Linked DNA regions of Homo sapiens: region 2 is linked to region 1. Evidence: fine-mapped expression QTL. Tissue or cell type: whole blood. Region 1 holds a variant in brackets; the other region holds the start of a gene. All regions are shown on one strand. Distances are from middle to middle.

Region 1 (8,109 bases):
TAATCCTAGCACTTTGGGAGGCCGTGGCAGGCAGATCACATGAGGTCGGGAGTTTTAAGACCAGCCTGACCAACATGGAGAAACCCCGTCTCTACTAAAAATACAAAATTAGCTCGGTGTGGTGGCACATGCCTGTAATCCCAGCTACTTGGGAGGCTGAGGCGGGAGAATCGCTTGAACCCGGGAGATGGAGGTTGTGGTGAGCCGAGATCACGCCATTCCACTCCAGCCTGGGCAACAAGAACTTTCGTTCTTGTTCTCAAAAAAAAAAAAAAAAAAAAATTAATTAACATTGGTAGTTTTTAATGTCTCAAGAATTTAAGTGTTCTCCTTTCCAAGGTTGCTGCCTAGTTCATAGAGTCATCATCTTTTACGTGGAATTTCCAAGAACTTCCTAACTGGTCTTATTTCCTGTGGTTTCCCCCTTGTTTCTTCTTTGTGTTTTTGCAATTTCCTTTCCTCCCCTGCTTTCTTTTTTTTTATTTATTTATTTATTTATTTATTTATTTATTTATTTATTTATTTTTGAGATGGAATCTCACTCTGTCGCCCAGGCTAGAGTGCAGTGGCGTAATCTCGGCTCACTGCAAGCTCCGCCTCCTGGGTTCACGCCATTCTCCTGCCTCAGTCTCCGAAGTAGCTGGGACTACAGGCGCCCGCCACCACACCCAGCTAATTTTTTTGTATTTTTTAGTGGAGACGGAGTTTCACCGTGTTAGCCAGGATGGTTTCGATCTCCTGACCTTGTGATCCGCCTGCCTTGGCCTCCCAAAGTGCTGGGATTACAGGGGTGAGCCGCCGTGCCTGGCCCTTTCCTACCCTGCTTTCTTAAGCAGAATATGGAATAGAAACAATGATGGCAGCCACCGTTACTTCGCTCCTGACTTTACTGGCTGTATTGGTATATTTCACCATTAAGTACTGTGTTTACTGTAGAACTTTTGAAATATTCTTCATTTGGTTAAAGATGTTCCTTTCTATTCCTAGTTTAATGAGAATAGTTTCCTTTTTTAAAAAAAATGTTAAGAATGAATACTTAGCTTTATCAAATAGTTTAATTGTACTGATTTAAATGATCATATGGGCTTTCTCATTTAATAAGTTAATGTCATACATTAAATTAACTGATCTTCTAACATTAAATCATTGTTGAACTTCTGGGATACCACTACTTGGTTTTGACACACACACGCATATTCTCTCTGTCTGTCTGTCTCTCTCTCTCTTTCTCTTCCTCTCCTCCCTCCCTCCCTCTCCCTCTCTCCCTGTCCCTCTCCCCCTCACTCATACATGTGTATCCTCCTGTCTTTTTAGGCCCATGACTTTCTAATGGATTATAGTCTCAAGGCACAGTTACCAGTGTTCATTTTCAACCTTCTTTCTTTGAAAAGGCTGGAAGAGAAGCTTTATTCCACCCTACTTCAGCTTCTTCATGCATCCAGCCTGGCTCTGGTCCCTCTTCTTTTTCTTTGAAACCTACTAGCTTCAATGATCCCATGTACTACCGTAGTACATTGGTAGTGTACTTCCAACTACCATAGATCCCATAGGGACAGCACTTCCAACTACCATAGCCTGCTTCTGGCCCAAGAGCCCAACATGATCATGGAGTCGGCCTCGTGCACTGTTTTGAGTTTCTGTTTTGATTCTTGGAAATGTCTGTCTTGTTTTTGAGCTTATATCCTTTTTTGTTTTTTTCTTTTTCTTTTTTTTTTTCTTTTTTTTTTTGAGATAGAGTCTCACTCTGTCACCCAGGCTGGAGTGCAGTGGTGTGATCTTGACTCATTGCAACCTCTGACTCCTGGGTTCAAGTGATTCTGCTGCCTCAGCCTCCCAAGTAGCTGGGATTGCTGGCCTGCACCATCACACCTAGCTAATTTTTGTATTTTTAGTACATTGTGTTTTTACAACCTACTAAATTATTATTTATCTGCTAAATTATTAAATCTACTAGATTTTTATTTAGTAGATTGTATTTTTAGTTTCACCATGTTGGCCAGGCTGGTCTTGAACTCCTGACTTCAAGTAATCTGCCCGCCTTGGCCTCGCAATGTGCTGGGATTACAGGTGTGAGCCGCCGCACCTGGCCTTGTTTTTTCATTTTAAAAATACCCGTCTTTTTTTGGAATGGAGAAGATACATCATCACTAATACAGTTTTATCATTTTTCTTCCCTTCATCGAAACCTTTAATGGATGGCTCCCCATTGCCTATAAAATGACTACATTTTGCAGCAAGGTTTATAAAACTCTTTACAACTGGTCCCAGTTTACCTTTTGCTGCCTTATGTCAAAACACCACTACTATATGGTATTATATGCAGTCTCAGACTATATTTGTTCTTTAAATATACCACACATTTTCACAGCTGTTTTGTTCATGTTATTTCCTCTACCTAGAAGGCTTTTTACTTTGTTCTGGAAAATACATACTTATCCTTCTAGTCTGGCTGAGAGGGATAGTTCTCTACTTATCCTTCTAGTCTGGCTGAGAGGGATAGTTCTCTATGTAGCTTGTCAACTCCCTCTCCCCTGCAAGGTGGTTACCCATTTGATGGCAGAAAACATCTTACTCATGTTTCTGTCTGCTGTGTTTTCCATAGGCCTGTCAAATAATAAGTGCTTAGTAAATGTATATTTTAGCATAGAGCAGGGGCTAGCAAATTTTTTTCTTAAAGAGTCAGGTAGTAAATTTTTTCTCTATTATAACTACCCAACTCTGCGAGGTGGTGCAGAGGCAGCTGTAGACAATATGTAAATGAGTGGATGTGGCTGTGTTCCAATAAAACTTTATTAACAGAAAAAGCTGGTGGCCAGATTTGGCCCATGTGCTATATTTTGCTGACCAAGGCATAGAGTAAGCAAAGAATATGATCCAAGTATTTACTAATTATTTTGTTTACTCTTTTATTGAATTAGGAAGGTATAGATTTAATAATAGTTCTGCTCTGAAATTTTTATAATTGCTCTTATGGAATGCTCTTTTTTTCATGTAAGTATTGGATGTAGTTTACTTTAAATAATGGTATATCAGAAGCTAGTAGGGAATTGTTGAATGAACAGTTATTAGTCTGTCTCTAGGGATGATCACCACTCAAGTCAGATTTTTATTTATTAATTATGCCTAGAATTTATCCAAATTATTTTATCAATACAATAATAAAATAGTCCATCTTGAAATAGTTTTTAAAATTACAGATAATCTTAAAATTAGTCAATGTTTGCTTTACTAAGGCAAATATGTCTTTCAGATATATGTTATTACTGTTACTTTATCTGTCTCATTAAACACTTTGTTATTAACAAATTCTTTGAAAAATGTTAACTAGCAGGTTTTGGGGAAGTTCAATTCTATGTTTATTGGATGGAGCTTTGCCTTGAAGCATCTGAACTTTTGAGTTATTTTTATTTTGGAGTGAGCATCTAGGGTACCTGATTGTGAAGCTAGATTTCAATCTTGTATGAGGGATGGTATATTTTTTTGTGTGAGTTAATTTAAATTTTTAAGTTTTTTTCCAATGCCTTCATTCCGAAAATGATACATGAATGTAGCAATAAAAGAAAATTGGAGTCCATGAAAAAATAGTAAAGCAATAGGAAAATACAGGTGAGGAAAGATAGAAAACAAAGAAGATGGCAATATGTAAAAAGGAAGTCCTGTAAGGCATATTTTACTGATGTGTTGTAAGGAAAAGTATATATGAAGTATGTTTAGAATTTAGAGTATGTGTAGAGTTGTTCCAGATGGGCAGCCAGAGAAGGCTGTGTGGAGGAAATATTCAATCTAGTCTTTTTTAAGATGTGAGTATGGAAACAAAAGAGCCTTCCCACTTCAGACTATGGTGGAGGCATGGAAACCTGTGCAGGACACAGCATGAACTATGAGGACACTTAATGACTTTCCAAGTGCTGTACAAATATAATGTAATATTGACCAGGATTGAAGTGCCTAAAAGTAAATGACCCAATGAAATTCTTACTAAGTTCATTAAACAAATATTAGGCAATATTTTTGTTTAATTTCTGCATCCTGTAAATTAATTCTGAGGACTCTGTTTTGGCAGTGACTGTTGAAGTGAAGGGTCCCTATGAATACCTCACACTTGAAGACTATCCCTTGATGATTGTAAGTGACTTTATATTATTTAACCTCAGTATTGGATGGTTTTGGGTTCAAAGATTGTCCCATGTTTTGTGGCAGTATTCTTTTTAATGAATTGTTCCTGTGCAATTCAGAAAATGTTGCTTGTAGTCCTGGATTTATTTCTTATTAGACTGGGACTTTGAGAGAGTCAGTATACCCTTGTGTGCCTCATTTTCTTATCCATATAATGAAGGGGTCAGTGACCTGTGGAAATACCTCAAAGATCATCTCACATTCTCTCTAGGATGCATAGTGGGGCACTTTTTACTACAACTCTATTGTTTCTGATCCCACTTACATTAACTAAATGAGGCTGGGTGCCCTGGCTCATGCCTGTAATCCCAACATTTTGGGAAGCTGAGGCGGGCAGATCACTTGAGGTCAGGAGTTTGAGACCAGCCTGGCCAACATGGTGAAACCCCATCTCTACTAAAAATACAAAAATTAGCTGGGCGTGGTGGTAGGCGCCTGTAGTCCCAGCTACTCGGGAGGCTAAAGCAGAATTGCTTGAACCCAGGAGACAGAGGCTTCTGTGAGCTGAGATCTTGCCACTGCACTCCAGCCTGGGCGACAGAGTGAAACTGTCTCAACAACAAAAAATTAACAAAATGATGAAGCTCCCTTCTCTTCATTTTGTGTGTGTATGTGTGTATGTGTGCACATACATGTATGTGTGCATACGTCTGTGTCTCAGAATATCCTTAATATATTTTCAATTTTCTTTGTTCATGATTATTCTCTTCTTCCTTTCCCTTTAATAGTTTTCCCGTTTTGTTGTGTTTCCTTGCCTCTAGATGTATCCTAATCATCATGCCATTTTTCTTCTTCAGTGTTGTCTTCATCTATATAATTTTAGATCGTGAGCTGAAATAGCTCCTTCTTTAAAAAAAAAAAAAAAAAAA[G/AAG]AGAGTCTCACTCTGTCTCCCAGGCTGGAGTGCAGTGGCATGATAATGGATAATGGCTCACTGCAGCCTTAAACTCCAGGCTGAAGCTACCCTCCACCTCAGCCTCCCAAGCAGCTAGGACAACAGGCGTGTGCCACTATGCCTGGCTAATTTTTATTTTATTTTATTATTTTTTATCTTGAAACGTAGTCTCACTCTGTCACCCAGACTGGAGTGGAATGGCACGATCTTGGCTCAATGCAACCTCCAGCTCCTGGGTTCAAGCGATTCTCCTGCCTCAGCCTCCTGAGTAGCTGGGACTACAGGTGCGCACCACCATGCCTGGCTAATTTTTGTATTTTTAGTAGAGACGGGGTTTCACCATGTTTTGGCCAGGCTGGTCTTGAACTCCTGACCTCAAGTAATCTGCCCATCTCTGCCTCCCAAATTGCTGGTATTACAGGCATGAGCCACCATGCCTGGCCTAATTTTTATTTTTTGTAGGGACAGAGTCTTGCTATGTTGCCTAGACTGGCCTTGAACTCATGACCTCAAGCAGTCCTCCTGCCTCGGCTTCCCAAAGCACTATTGCAGGTGTGAATTACCACGCCTGACCAGAAAAAGCTCTTTTACTATAGGAGAGCAGGCTGAGTGCTCTCTATATATACCATATATGTGTCTGTGTGTATAATAGAGAGCACCTTTTATATGGTATACATATGTGATACATACATACACACACACACACACACACACACACACACATATATATATATACATATGAGAGCATTCGCTCTTGAGGACAAGTTCATATGTAGTCTTCTCTGCTCAAGACAAGATAATGCTTTCATATTAGTTAATGTTAAGCTCCAAAGGAAGAATTATTTCTTAACTAGAAGGTAGAATATATTTTTGTAACTTGTTAAGACTGTATATTGATTCAGGACAGGCGCTGTGGCTTATGCCTGTAATCCCAACACTTTGGGAGGCAGAGATGGGAGGATTGCTTGAGTCCAGAAGTTCAAGACCATCCTAGGCAACATAGCAAATCCCCATCTCTTAAAAAAAAAAAAAAAGTATATATTGATTCTAAATCTACAGACTTGGCTCTTGGCCCTAATTCTCCTTTTTATCTTTTACCCAATTTGATAACAGTTTTTCATGGTGATGTGTATTGTATATGTCCTGTTTGGTGTTCTGTGGCTGGCATGGTCTGCCTGCTACTGGAGAGATCTCCTGAGAATTCAGTTTTGGATTGGTGCTGTCATCTTCCTGGGAATGCTTGAGAAAGCTGTCTTCTATGCGGAATTTCAGAATATCCGATACAAAGGAGAATCTGGTAAGTAACCAGAAAATCTTTGCCAGTTCGAGTGGTTGGAAGGTGAGATGTATGAAAATATTCCTAAGGTCAGCAGTCACTACATAGGCTTAACTTTTCAATTACTTAATTATTACAATATCTTAAGCAGAATCACTATGACTCTGACTTTTGTTTTTAATCTTATGAGTTCAGTGATGTAAGACTAATTTTACTGAAATATGCTCACAAAAGTCACAACAGTAGTGACCATTTTGGGAATGATTATTAACATCAAATCTCAATTTCTGTTGATTTCTAAGGCACCATTATACATCTAAGAAAAAAAGTAAAGCTGTCAATTTAATTGTAAAATGTCACTGATTGTAAGACACACCTTGATTTAAAAAACCTCAAAATGTGGTGGGAAAGTGCATCTAACTGATAAAATATAGTCATATCAAGAAAATAGGAGAGTGCTTATGGTTTAGTAAGGTGAACTGGTAATGACAGAAGTTGTTTTATACTGTAGTTTTTTGTGATTGCTTCAGTTTTTTCTTGTCAGACCATTTAATTTAGTCATAATTATTATTGTGAGATAAACTGATAAGATTTTCCCTGGTCTTTGAAAGGTCTTGAAAATAGTAGATCTGAAAAAAGTTAAGCTGTACATGCCAACAAGCGTGTACACGAGTGTGTTTTGTGCTTTTCTATGTGTAGCTGTATTTCACAGTTTTTAAAAATGGGGGAAATTGTCTCGATGCTACAAACTGTCCATATAGGGTGAGGTATTCTGTTAAAGTTTTAGTGAATTTGGGGCCAGGTCGGGGAGGGAGCTGAGTTGAGCGCACCCAGATTGCCATACATAGACATGAGTAAGATTGTGAGTGGCATCAGCTTGTATCCTGTAAAAACTGTGGAAGAGGTATTCTATTTTAGCAGGACTAATATCAATGCTTATTCTGAAGAGTGTAGAAAGCAGCAGTCTAGTATTGGCATCTGGCCTGTTGCCAAACCTAGATTATGGTGCCATTTCTTCCCTTCTTTTTCATAGTCCAGGGTGCTTTGATCCTTGCAGAGCTGCTTTCAGCAGTGAAACGCTCACTGGCTCGAACCCTGGTCATCATAGTCAGTCTGGGATATGGCATCGTCAAGTAAGTATTAACTTCCTGTATGGAAGAGCAAATTAAAATGCTGATTAAATTAAAACAGTATTGCATGTTCCCAATGTAGTAGTTCTGAAATAGTTGATAAAAGAAATAATTCTGAAACAAGAAAGGTATTTGAAATTTTGTAGCATTGTAAATGTTGGGAAAATGTGTTTCATTTTCCATACTTCCAAATATATTCCATACTTCCAAATATATTCCATACTTCCAAGTCCAAATGTATTCCATACTTCCAAATCCAAATGTATTCCATACTTCCGAATATATTTCCATACTTCCAAAATATTTTTTGCAAATTAGATTTTTTATGGGAAACGCATTCTTGCTGTAACTGTCTGAAAATATTTTTCTATCCAAAAAATTTTATTTTTATTGAGGAGTGTCTTCTATAGGCATTCTTTGAGGCATTGTTCTAGGCCCTGGGGATATGGCAAGTAAACAGAAGATTTTGAGCTTACATTTGTGGAGGGAGGGGACAAAGACAAAATTTAAGTGGGTAAAATATTTTAATATGTCAGTGGAAAGTGCAGTGGAGCAGGTAATGCAGGAGCTAGAGCTTGCAGTTGTACATAGGGTGATCAAGGAGGGCTTCACTTAATGACATTTAAGCAGAGACTTC
Region 2 (8,107 bases), 33 kb before region 1:
TACTTCAGGAGTAAATGTATAAAGTTAAAAGTGAGTCTCCTGTCTGATGATTTCCTTAATTATTAAATTATCCTTTCCTTGGAAAGTCTATCAGTTCCAAAAATTTAATAAGCATCAATTTTGAAATACTGTCAGAGATGTTTTGATCTAGCTACTATATTTATTTTCCTTACCTGTAAAATGCGATCTTGTTACAGTCTCTGAAAATGTTTTTATCTACAGCTTCATCTTCAAGACTAAATAAAAAGACATTTTGAGAAATTTATTTCACACAGGGCTTGTGAATCCAACTTTTGTACCTTCTCTAACGACAGTATGAACATGCAAAATAAACCTTTGGAGTCTATTCTGCAATGCAAAATTGTGTCACGGCCACAGTATAACATAATAGCACATTATGTTGCAGAACAATAGCCTTTTGTAAACCCTCTGAGGTAAACAACAAAACATCAGGTTCTGGGATTACTCCAAAAGTAATGGGAAAAGATCACTGTCACTTATGAGGACATATTCTTTTGAAATAATGACTGAAGGCTATGACCACAAAAGTAAAATCTGAAGGAGGAAAACCAAAACAGCATCCCAAAACGAACAAACCAAAACCAACCAACCAGACAAACTAAGAACCATAACCCACCCACCGATTTATTCAAGAAAATATTTTCAGAATATTCTTCCTGAGAGCTGGGCTCTGAGGAAGATATGAACTGTGTTCAAGCTATCAGTTAGGGTTTTACCAGCAATCACAATACAAGCTGACAAATGCTTTAATAGAGGTGCAAGGTGCTAGAATAAGAACAGAACAGACGTAGAAGGGGAATTTCTTGCTTTTTAAGATGAGGTGACAAACTAGGGGCCATGTTTTTTAAAACCAAGTTTCCAGAAGAGCTGTTTCTGGGATAAAACATGAATGAGATATATGTATATTGAAGTTTGAGTATATGTATTTAAACTAGCCTCCATCTGATTAAAACAACTACAGATTATAAGGAGAAAAAAAAATTACACCGGCTTTCATGCACTAGTGTGGCCGAATGCATCTGTAGTCAGCATGTCCATGATTATGTAGAAAGCTATGACTGAACACAAACGTCGAAATATTATGAAAACAAGCCCAGGCAGATATACTTGGCCATACTAAAAAACTGTTTGTCCTTCACTGAACTCAGTCTTTGTCCGTTTATTTTAATTTATTAAAAAAATTTTTTTTGAGACAGGATCTCGCTCTGCCTCCTACGTTGGAGTGAAGTGGCACGATCTTGGCTTGCTGCAACTGCCGCCTCCTGGGCTCAGGCTATCTTCCTGCCTCAGCCTCCTGAGTAGCTGGGACTACAGGCCCACATCACCACGTCTGGCTAACTTTAAAATTTTTGTAGAGACAGGGATTCAGCATGTTGCCCAGGCTGGTCTGAACTCCTGGGTTCAAGCAATCTGCCCACCTATAGGCCTCCCAAAGTGCTGGGATTACAGGCATGAGCGAACCGGCCCAGTTTATTTTAATCAAGTGTACAAAGATTGGAGAATCTTTTGTTTCCTCTTTACAGCTTCGAAGAATTAACTCTGGGATGATATAGGAAGGGGTGATTATAGATGAATTTGGAAAGCAACATGCCTGAAATTCACGTGTTAAGAGTTCTGATTGCAACTTTTCCACTGTTAATGTTATTTAACCATCCTTTTTTTTTGGAGACAGGGTCTCACTTTGTTGCCCAAGCAGTGGCAAGATCACAGCTCCACTGCAGCCTCCAAATCCATCCTCCCAGTGGTCTCCCAAGTAGCTGGGACTCCGAGGGGGCGGGGAGGGGGTCTCGAACTCCTGAACTCAAGCGATCCTCCCACCTTAGCCTCCCAAAGTGCTGTGGGATTACCTGCGTGAGCCACTGCACCCGGCCTATTTAACCATCCTGAAAGTATTTTATGAGAGGCTATTAATATCAACTAACTTCCCGCGAATTGAGAGAAAAGATAAAGGTCAGCAAATACCAAATACGCAAATAAGAAATGCAATTAAAACACTATTCCCTGTTTCTAGGGACCCTGGGGTCACTCGCTACAGAAGCACTTGGCCTTTACCTTATTTCCTCTTTCACTGCTGCTTCCATGGCTTCTCTGTCACTCCGACCAGCTCCCAGCTCTCAGGACAAGGGCCCTGGGCGATCTTTTAAAAAAGCCGATTGGGTGTCTTTCTAAAATTACAACCAGTACTTCATCGTCAAGTTTCTGGGAAGGGAGTCCCCTCCAGATTCTCATGGAGTGACAAATCTTGACTCTTGCTCCTGGAATTTTTCAGGCCCAAACTAGCGTTTCTACAATGATTTATTTGGCAAATTTGTCTTGATTATGGGTGGCTGATGAGGAACGTGCTTTTGTTAGGAACCGAAACTGGGCGGCGGTGAGGGCGTGTACGCAATGAGTCCTAGAGGGTAAAAATCAAGAGCGTTAAGAACCTGGAAATGCCGAGACGGCCTCCCTGACTGGGACGAAGCATCTGCAGATCTATCTCAGTGGCGGGGTCACGCCACAGATTTTGAAAACTGACCCTCTCTGTCTCCGTTTTCGGTTAAGGGTGGGAAGTGCCGGCCGGGTCTTTGCTGGAGGCTAGGTCTCCAGCCAGATTGTACTGCAGCATCGTACTCTTCAGGGCTAGAAGGGGCCTTTGAAGGTTGTTACACTACCCAGTCTAGGAATCGCGTGTACTCCACCACCGCCGAATTCCAGCCTTTGCTTAAATACCACCCAAACCGGAGAACTCACTACTAGACGCCACTTGGGCAGCCAGGCTTAGGGCTTTTCCAGACTTTCTGGCCCCAAAGTCTGACATTGACTTAGAAGGGATGAAGGGCTGGGGCGAGCGGAAGTAGAGAGCCAAATCCTGCACGGGGTGCCTGCCTGGTCCTAAAACCTTTAACGGCTGGGAGACAGAAAAGACTCAGGCCAGGCTGGCATGTAGCGATCTCTCTAACCCAGCTGACCAGGTTCCAACAGGATGACGCCTGCGCAGTAGGTCCAAAGTCTCACGGCGCACAGACGACTGTCTGAGAGAGGGGCCGCTACGCCGCACAGCAAACAAGCTCCGCGACGTTTCCAGGACCCGGATAATCCCGCCCTTAGAGCAGAGCCGGAAGAAGGCGGGACGAACCGGAAGAGGGTGAAATGCTTTCGGTAGGCACTCCACGGCTGTGAAGATGGCGGCGGCTGCGTGGCTTCAGGTGTTGCCTGTCATTCTTCTGCTTCTGGGAGCTCACCCGTCACCACTGTCGTTTTTCAGTGCGGGACCGGCAACCGTAGCTGCTGCCGACCGGTCCAAATGGCACATTCCGATACCGTCGGTGAGTATTCACTTCACTAACGTCTGAACCTAGAGGAGCAAGGGGTGGGGCTACGGCGGCCCAAGGGGTCCATGAAGGTTCCGCAAAAGTCTCTTCAAAAGGGGTGGGGTTGCTGGGATGGTCTGTGTGGCTAGCCAACTGGGACCCACCTCCCTGGAGTGGAAAGCCGCGCACTTCTGTGATTAGGCTAGCGGGAATGTAAGGGCCACTTCAGCAACAGAAAGGAGTGGTGGAGCGGCTTCTCATCAGAAAAACAGAACTTTCAGTGCCTGACTTGAGATGTAAACTTGATGTACAAACGGAGAGTTGTTTATCTTTCAGATGTTTCACAGAATCCAGTGTCCCCGGGTTGGATAAGAAAGATATGTAAATAGGAGTCTTCATTTCTTTCTTTCTTTTTCTTCCTCTGCACTTCTTGGTCCCTGGGTAATTCTGCTTACGAGATGGTTCGACTTCGCTTCAACTTTGGAATGGCTATTCTAAGCTTTACTGTGTGACTAGAAAGCATAGAGATTTAAGAAATGTGTTTTAACATGGGAATGGTTAAAATTGAAGAAATAGTACTTAAAATTTAATGTGGTAAGGCTAGTCTTTCATTTGGATAATTAACTACATGGGTTGACCCTTTCTGCCCCTTACCCATTTTAAACCTTATTTCAGTAACAGGTATAGTCCTGTGAGCAGACAAAAACCAGATGCAGGGAGGAAATGCTGAAAAGCATTAGCCCCATTAAACCTACGTTGGCCTTTTTGTTTCATTCTGCTCTGCTCACTGACTGTAATGTCCAAATCTTATTTGGGCTTTTATTATGGTAAACGTTATACCTTTTGTTCAGTGGTGAAGATTTTCAGGTGTTCAGTTAGGTTTTTACTTGTTACTAAAATGGTTAATAGTTAAGTCTTTTTAGATTTGAAAATAAAACTCTGGTTATTTGCACACAGAATAGTTCATTAGAAAAAATGATTGGTTATTCTGAGCAGTGATTGGTGAGTAAAGGGAATGAACTGATTAAGGGGTACGTCCCATAAAGATTTAAGTTAAGTTGGAATTTCTAGCAGTCTTAGATAGTTATATGATGCTTTGGTAATTGAAGCCATCTGAGGCTAATTATCTTTCCTTTATGTTTGCAGGGGAAAAATTATTTTAGTTTTGGAAAGATCCTCTTCAGAAATACCACTATCTTCCTGAAGTGTGAGTTTTTGAATTTCATGAAGTTTTAATTTGAATTTTAAAAATTTATAGGTAATGTTTTAAATTACCTATTTTATAAGTTCTGAAATCTAATAGTCTGGCATTATCTAGGTATAAATATTTTTAGTATTACTAAGGTCCTTTTACTGAATCATCTTCAAAGTACTCGTGTGAACTTTATTTTCTTCTCTTGTTTTTCTGGTGTTTACATTGCATATATACACTATGTAGACATTATATATTAGTATATATAATGTATATATTAATATATATGCTGTATATACTACATTGAATATTCAGTCACATCTCAGTCGAATTACATTTACAGTTGATACTTTCTGAGAAAAGCATCCTTAGGTGATTTTGTCATTATGCAAACATCATAGAGTATACTTAAAACTGGATGGCACTACACGCCTAGTTTGTATGGTACAGCCTATTGCTCCTAGGCTATAAACCTGTATAACATGTTACTGTACTGAATGCTATAGGTGGTTGTAACACAATGGTAAGTTTTTGTATATCTAAACATAGGAAAGTAGAGTACAAATACGATATTACAATTTTATGGGACCCCCGTTGTATATGTAGTCTTTCATTTACTGAAATGTTATGTAGTGAATGACTGTGATTATGTTGGGGTTGATTCCCTGCATGGTGGTTTTAATCTGTTCTGTGTAGATTAAAGAGGTTTTACTCTTGTGTGCTTGTTAAATGTTTACTGCAAACATGACCTAGGTTTGTCAGGCCGTTGGCTGTGAAGGAATATATTTAGTAGATCCTTTATTTACAAAAGGAGTATTTTACTGCTTTGGAAGAGGAAGCTCAGATATTATCAAGAAATAGGGATTATGTAGAACAAAACTAGTTTGTCTAGTGGAAAAATGACTGTATCTGAATCTAAAGTATCCCATTGTGTGTTCAGTAAAAGCTTCCTTTTAGTTCTGAAACCGGCTTTAATTTAGAGAACGATTGATCGTGGGCAGCTTTATTTCTAGATGAGGGATAAAAATCCTGATGATAGATGTGTGATTCTATGCATACTGTCTTCACGGAAGTGCAAAATTTTAAGTCATAGTTGGATAATTTTATTCTTTTCAATTGTTTAGTGAGTAATTATTACTTATTGCATAGACTGTGGGGAAGTAATAGAAAAATGTTCTTCCCTCATCGAGCTTACATTCTAGTGGGAGTGAAAACAGCAGGTAGAATTTCTCTGAAGAATATATACTGTATCCATGAATATGTAATCAGTCTCCTGACCAGTGACTTATATTTGATTTAGATCAAATCTACTCTGACACTGGCCTTGTGAGATTGGTTTACTGGGTAACCTAGTAACCCTTGTCTTTTGGAATAGCTTGACAGCCTGTTTGCTGTTTTATTCTTTTATTAGGTCCAGTCTTTTTTTCTCGTGTAGTTTGATCTAGTGGTGTTTTGCCAAGTTAAACCAACTGCATTTTTTTTAAGATGGTGTCTCACTCTGTCACCCAGACTGGAGTGCAGTGGTACGATCTTGGCTTACTGCAACCTCCACCTCCCAGGTTCAAGCGATTCTCCTGCCTCAGCCTCCCGAGTAGCTGGGATTACAGGCATGAGTCTCTATGCCCAGCCCTAACTGCGTATTTTGAAGTGTTTATATTTCATTGTTTTTGGAGGATTTGAGGCACTTTATTTTTTGTTGTTGTTTTTTGAGACGGAGTTTTGCTGTGACGCCCAGGCTGGAATGCAGTGGCACGATCTCGGCTCACTGTAACCTCTGCTTCCTGGGTTCAAGCGATTCTTCTGCCTCAGCCTCCCGAGTAGCTGGGACTATAGGCGCGTGCCACCACGCCGGCTAATTTTTGTATTTTTAGCAGAGGTGGGGGTTTCACCATATTGGCCAGGCTGGTCTCGAACTCCCGACCTCAAGTTATCTGCCTGCCTTGGCCTCCCACAGTTCTGGGATTACAGGTGTGAGCCACCGTGCCCGGCCTGAGACACTTTAACATTATCTTTTTCTTTGTTATTTCTGTGCTTTCTCATATTTACCAGTTGTCTTTGATTTTGTACTTTTTGGGGGATGGTATATAGCTTTCCATGGAATAGCTGGGACCATTTTTTTTTTTTTTTTTTTTTTTGAGACGGAGTCTCGCTCTGTCGCCCAGGCCGGACTGCGGATTGCAGTGGCGCAATCTCGGCTCACTGCAAGCTCCGCTTCCCAGGTTCACGCCATTCTCCTGCCTCAGCCTCCCGAGTAGCTGGGACTACAGGCGCCCGCCACCGCGCCCGGCTAATTTTTTGTATTTTTAGTAGAGACGGGGTTTCACCTTGTTAGCCAGGATGGTCTCGATCTCCTGACCTCATGATCCACCCGCCTCGGCCTCCCAAAGTGCTGGGATTACAGGCGTGAGCCACCGCGCCCGACCTTATTGTCTCTTAAAGCCTTTCATTTAAAGTTCTAAATATTGTCTTGTAACATAAACAGCAGTATTTTTGCTGCCAAATTTCCTTACAAGTCTCCTGTTTGGGGGATGTGTTCTTACTGGCTTTTTATTAGTTAATCCTGTCCCTGTATGGATTATTTTGAATAGTTCATAGCCCAATTGCTTTTTATCATTTCCATAAATTCTATCCAACAGGTCAAATTTTTGAACATTCTAATAGAGTCCTTTGAAAATGTGTTGGTCATCTAAAAATTAGTTTGAGAAAACAGTTTAAAAGAAAAAAAAAGGAAGCTTATAATTAGGTTGCTTCTTTTGTTATGAATGAAAAGTAGATTCCTAAATGCAGTCATGTTTATTTTTGTCATGTTTATTATTACATTTATATAAAGTAGGGAGTCTTTAGTATATTTTTCCTTTCATAGCTAGAATCAAAGATAAAAGCGAATACTGACTTCCTCCAGCTAATCAGTCATATAGTCAGATTTACCCTCCCAAGTCTTCAGAATAATGTCTTGATCCATTAGAATACTGTGTTCCAAACTGTGTTTAATGAGCTTTATGAAGCTTCCATGATAACATGAGCTTCCTTGAGGCCTCTTTTAAGGTAGGCTTTGAAAAAAAAAATCTGATACTCTTATCTTTGCTTTTGCTATTTCTACCTTCCACAGCCATGTTTGCTTTTCGTTCATTGCTCTTTCTGTTCTATCTTGATATCTTTCAAGGTCTGAGATAGCAATTTTGCTCTCAGTGGAACTATTATGTATATCATCATTTAACACCATTTAACAGTTGTTAATATTGCCTTGTGACATGCATTCCTAATTTTATTATTGCTTGTCTCTTCAACTAGCCTTTTGAAGGGTCTTAATAATTTGTTTCCACTCGTTTCCCTCTTTAGCCTAACAGTGTGCCATTATACCTTTGTAATACTTGTGCTATTTATTTATTTATTTATTTATTTATGTTTTTTGAGACAGGGTCTCGCTCTGTCGCCCAGGCTGGAGTGCAGTGGTACCATCATGGCTCACTGCAGACTTGACCTCCTGGGCTCAAGTGATCCTCCTGCCTCCCTTGCCTGAGTAGCTGGGACTACAAGCATGTACCACCACGCCTAGCTTTTTAATCATTTTTTGTAGAGATGAGTTCTCACTATGTTGCCT

What was found. PIP is the estimated chance that this variant, and not a neighbour inherited with it, causes the effect.
Region 2: TMEM87A starts here. The variant in region 1 is fine-mapped to the expression of TMEM87A in whole blood (INTERVAL, PIP 0.93).

The regions. Positions count from the first base shown.
Region 1 is chr15:42,235,686-42,243,794 of GRCh38, reverse strand. It overlaps TMEM87A (transmembrane protein 87A), which reads left to right. Exons shown (of 20, transcript NM_015497.5): 8 at 4,064-4,125; 9 at 6,180-6,363; 10 at 7,376-7,475. Among named protein-coding and RNA genes, the nearest start is that of VPS39-DT, 31 kb to the right of the region's middle. The variant G/AAG (reference allele first, on the strand shown) is at 5,046.
Region 2 is chr15:42,268,477-42,276,583 of GRCh38, reverse strand. TMEM87A (transmembrane protein 87A) reads left to right here and starts at 3,151. Exons shown (of 20, transcript NM_015497.5): 1 at 3,151-3,329; 2 at 4,461-4,521. The coding sequence starts at 3,186. It overlaps GANC (glucosidase alpha, neutral C), which reads right to left and starts at 3,383. Exons shown (of 24, transcript NM_198141.3): 1 at 2,074-3,383; 2 at 174-236. The coding sequence starts at 2,102. RefSeq lists enhancers at 1,990-3,189, 3,162-3,391, 3,552-3,801.